Linked DNA regions of Homo sapiens: region 2 is linked to region 1. Evidence: fine-mapped expression QTL. Tissue or cell type: neutrophils. Region 1 holds a variant in brackets; the other region holds the start of a gene. All regions are shown on one strand. Distances are from middle to middle.

The links. PIP is the estimated chance that this variant, and not a neighbour inherited with it, causes the effect.
Region 2: it holds the start of IL15, and the variant in region 1 is fine-mapped to the expression of IL15 in neutrophils (BLUEPRINT, PIP 0.95).

Annotation. Positions count from the first base shown.
Region 1 is chr4:141,403,605-141,406,365 of GRCh38, forward strand. No RefSeq gene overlaps it. Among named protein-coding and RNA genes, the nearest start is that of LINC02432, 72 kb to the left of the region's middle. The variant T/G (reference allele first, on the strand shown) is at 1,592.
Region 2 is chr4:141,635,502-141,638,001 of GRCh38, forward strand. It overlaps IL15 (interleukin 15), which reads left to right and starts at 1,082. Exons shown (of 8, transcript NM_000585.5): 1 at 1,082-1,247. RefSeq lists an enhancer at 995-1,084.

The DNA.
Region 1 (2,761 bases):
TTGTGTGACCAGATGATTGTGTGAATTGTTTACATGTTATTTTGTATCATTCCACAGCACTTCTATGAGAGACTATTATGCTGGTGAGGAATCTGAAGTCTGACCAAAGGTCTTATAGCTTATAAATGGAGGTGCCCAATTTGCAGCCAGGCCTATTGAATTAAACTTAGGTGATCTTTCCAGAGCATCATGCTTGGATTGTTAATTTGTCTCTGATACTTGGTCTTTCAGGCTTGTTTCTGTCAACTTACCTACTGACCCTCTAATGAGAATGATCCTCATTCTTATTCTCTGGGCATACTACAATTGGATTGTATACCACATTTTGTCCTCTAATATCTGTCTGCCCTTCAAGACTGGATTTAGCTTCCTGCTAAAGTCCGTCACACTGCCATCAGAATCTGCTGTGCACTGGCAGCCCTCCTCCTGCAGCTGCCCACGTTCTACAGCACACTACATTTGCAATTTGTACAGCATTTGGAAACCTTTTCTCTCAGATCCAGTGTTGAATGTCTTTGGCAACATACCTGTCTATATAATTTTAATTAATGTGCACTTTTAAAAGCTACCTCAAGGTAGCATTTACCACAGGTTTGAAATTAGAAATAATGTCACGTTTAAATAAAAGCAAAAGAAACTAAAACACATTTAAAAAATTGAATTTAACTTTCTAATAGAACATGGGTCAGTTGCTATACACATTTTTATTATAGGGAATATTTTGGTATTTTCAGCCATATAAATTTATATTAACTTTATGCTTTAGTCTTGTAAAATGGTCAGGAGCAGGAATATGGAGAGGTAGGAGGAGAGTAGATGGCATTGAAAACACAGGCATTATCTGTGAAAATATTGAAGCTATAAACATTTCTTGGAAGCTGCCTGGAAATCTGAACAGGAAAGACTCATATTGTATTTTAAAAATTCTGTTCCTTTTCTAAAATCAACTACTAACTTTTCAAACACACATAGAAAGCAGATTATCCTGTGACACTTTACATTGAAGAAAAACAAAATATTTTCAAAGATGCCAAACCAATAATTTAAAATAAGATATTGAATAGAATTTAAACAAGATTAAAATTAAGAAAAAATATGTTTTAAACAGAAAAGGGTGAAAGAAATCCACTTATAAAGGCAACTGTTGATTTAAAATTATTAGAACTAAGTATTTGTCCATTGCTTTACAAATTGCAACTGGAGATTGAAGGGTTTTTTTTAATGGAAATATTTTTCCAACTTGGAGAGATTGCAACAGTTGCTTTATGGTTATGAACTGCCAAATAGATCCTGTAAATGGGATCCAGTTAGTTCAGAGGAAGTTCAAAAAATCTCTAGAAATTACAAACACCAACAGAAAAATAGAGATTTGTCCTTTTATACAAGTGACAGAAAGCAACAAGAATGGTGCTCACATGTTAGTGTTTTGATGTGCATCTAGCTTTTATTTAAGCTCATTGCACTTCTTCAACACTGCTGAACTTCCAAATATCATAACCTCTGGCAGAGTGGCAGTTGCTTCTTATTGAAAACTTTCTCAGCATGGATGCAATACATTGTTGGTCTATAATGAAGGTGATCCAGAAATATA[T/G]TGGCTGTCAAAGTTGCATCACTGGCTTGCTTTTTTTTTTTTTTTAATGCTGGAAGATAAAGTGGCTACCTCTGAGACAAGTTTTTCAAAACTCCATTTTCCACCAGTTCTGTTGCAATCTCTAGGTGTTATAATCAAGAAATTAAAAATGCTTAATCACTGAAAATTGATCAATTATTGGTTTGCTTCCACTTCTACCCAGGTCACGTAAAACATGCATTCGGACCACAGATTTTCAGAGAAGTGTAGCTCATAAAAATTATTGAAGCTTGTGAAGAATGGATGTGATCATCTAAATTACTTAAAACAACTAAAAGGAAAACTCAAATACATTAATGATTTTTATCTTCACATGAATAAGAAAAGTTTTTTTAAGTCCATGTTGATAGAAAATTGTATTCAAGTCATTAAAAGAGACATGAGTGCCCAATATTCCTCTCAAAAAGAAAATGTTGAACCACAAGAGGTTGTAGCTTTTGGAATGAAGCTAAATGTGACCAGAATTTTTTTTTTTTTTTTTTTTTTGAGATGGAGTCTTGCTCTATCGCCCGGGCTGGAATGCAATGGCACGATCTTGGCTCACTGCAACCTCCACTTCCTGGGTTCCAGCAATTCTTGCCTCAGCCTCCCAAGTAGCACTGGCTAATTTTTGTATTTTTAGTAGAGACAGGGTTTCACCACGTTGGCCACCACGAACTTCTGACCTCAGGTGATCCACCCGCCTTGGCCTCCCAAAGTGCTGGGATTACAGGCATGAGCCACCGTGCCCAGCCGATGACCAGAAATTTATAAAATCATCAGGTAGGCCAAAGGAGATGAAGAATGTAAAGTCAGAGACTTTTTTAAATATTAAGGATTTTCTTCCTGAAGTAATGCTCAAAATGTCCATTACCTAAGTCTTCAGTTGTAATGCATCTACATTTAAGTATTAATTAATTAATTAAGTATACAGCAAAGAGCTCAGCTGGCTCAAACTGGACATCTCTGGTATCAAAATATGACTTCCTTGATTTGTATGGTAGGCCTAAACACTGATTCTCAACCAAGAGATTGTGCTACCTTAGGGGACTTTTGGCAAAAATATCTGGACTCACTTTCAGATATCACCACTTGGGGTAGGAGGGGGTGTGCTTGTGGCATCCAGTGGGTAGAAAAGGTGCTGCTAAATAT
Region 2 (2,500 bases), 230 kb after region 1:
ATCTAGAGTTTGATGTAATTCTCATCAAAAAGTCCATCAGTAATTATTTCAAATATAAAACTGATATCAAAAAATTGAGTTAATGAAAATAAACTCAAATTTTTCATAAAAATATGAAATTATATTATACGGAACTTTATGTACATGGAAAGTGAATAATTTCTATTATTTTTCTATTTGATATTTATCATATTTATGTAATTAAAAACATAATTAAATTTTAAACTAAATTAAACTGCGCTCCAGGAAGACATCATTTTCTCTGAACCATGACTCTGAAAATTTGGAAAGCACCGTACAAGAGGGATTTTCAGTGATTCACAAGAGTGCAAGATTCTGCAAAGTACTTTCAAAACTAAGCGTGAGATCTTTGCTACTGCCTTTATGGCATGCAAATCACTCAGCCTCAACTCAGTTCCTTCCTCCAATGTAAAAATACTACAAGAACAACATCTCACGCTTCCATCAAATGGGACCATGTGTGATATTTTACACTGGACTACACAATAGGCTGGAAAAGTGATCCGCAGAGAGGCTCATTGCTCTAAGTTCACTCCCTGTACCAACTGTCTTGCACAAAGCTGCCACCCGGGTGTCTTCTTCCAACATTTCCCCTAGTTGGACTTCAAAGTTTCCTTCTTGCAGCCTGTGCGGGGACCAAGAGGCCGGTCTAGAGTAGCCGCCCAGCATCCAGATCCGACATCCTTTTCCCTTTCCTCAGGAAGACTTGGATGCGCGCCAGCCCAGCCCGGGTCTCCAGGTTCAGCTGCGGAAGCTTCCCACATGGTGCCCGTCGCTTGGGATGCGGCTATCCTTGTGCCTTCTCTGCAGGTGTCCCGGCAGGTAGAGGAGGAGACCGGTGGCTGGTGTTCCTGCAGGGCGGGGCTGGGGCTCCTCGATGTCCTTGCGCTTGCCCTGCAAGTTCTGCGCCCCAGGCCCCGGCAGGGACGGAAACAGGCCGGGAAGCAGTGACACCTGGGGCAGTCAGTCATCCAGGAGCCGCCGCCACCCGCCCCACCCCCAGTCTCCGCGGGAGGTGTTTGTCTTCGCCTATGCTCCCGGCTCTTTCTCTTTCACTTTTCTTTTCGCCAGGGGTTGGGACTCCGGGTGGCAGGCGCCCGGGGGAATCCCAGCTGACTCGCTCACTGCCTTCGAAGTCCGGCGCCCCCCGGGAGGGAACTGGGTGGCCGCACCCTCCCGGCTGCGGTGGCTGTCGCCCCCCACCCTGCAGCCAGGACTCGATGGAGGTACAGAGCTCGGCTTCTTTGCCTTGGGAGGGGAGTGGTGGTGGTTGAAAGGGCGATGGAATTTTCCCCGAAAGCCTACGCCCAGGGCCCCTCCCAGCTCCAGCGTTACCCTCCGGTCTATCCTACTGGCCGAGCTGCCCCGCCTTCTCATGGGGAAAACTTAGCCGCAACTTCAATTTTTGGTTTTTCCTTTAATGACACTTCTGAGGCTCTCCTAGCCATCCTCCCGCTTCCGGAGGAGCGCAGATCGCAGGTCCCTTTGCCCCTGGCGTGCGACTCCCTACTGCGCTGCGCTCTTACGGCGTTCCAGGCTGCTGGCTAGCGCAAGGCGGGCCGGGCACCCCGCGCTCCGCTGGGAGGGTGAGGGACGCGCGTCTGGCGGCCCCAGCCAAGCTGCGGGTTTCTGAGAAGACGCTGTCCCGCAGCCCTGAGGGCTGAGTTCTGCACCCAGTCAAGCTCAGGAAGGCCAAGAAAAGGTACCGCAGCTCCCCACTTCCTAACTGCTCCCGTCCCAAACTCATTGTGGGCCGGTGCAGATGTCTGTGCGTGCGCGTCTATCCCTACCTTTGCAAAATCAAATTATCGCCCTCTTCTTTGCTTGCACACGTCTTCTGGGAGAGAAATTTGCAGGAATGGTCAGTGCTTGGCAGTCAGGCCTGGGTCTGTATTGGTTCCAACTCTGCGCCAGCCAGTTATCTCTTAGAGAAGCGATAGTGTATCTAGAATGTCGAAGGAACTTGGAAAAAATACGAGCGAATTTCACTGAAATAAAATCATTATTCAAGGTGGCTTTTAAATGAAAATCCAGCCAATTTTTTCAAGTGTTATTAAGACCGCATGTAGCAAGGGTATATAGTTCATTTGACTTTATGTAATTCCATGCATTAAAAACTATGTTGACTTCAAAGTATGTCTAAACCAAACTAATTCTTAAATGATGCTTACAACAGATTCTTAAATAGGATGAGTCAGCAATTTCAAAACTGGAAGTAAAGTGGTGGTCACCAGCTAGTTTCCATTATATATTTTTAAACTACTATCTAATATTATGATACTGGTGGTGGCCAACTAAGTGGACGTCATCCTTATCTTGTCAGTGTGGTGAAAGAGGCCATATTAGCTAGGCTGAATTTTTGCTCAGGTATTACAGAATAAACTGGTGATTATGCATCCTGCCATGTAGAGGTTATAAGGTGAACCATTCTACTGAAAGCATCAAGATACAATACACTTTTGGAAGGCCGAGGCGAGAG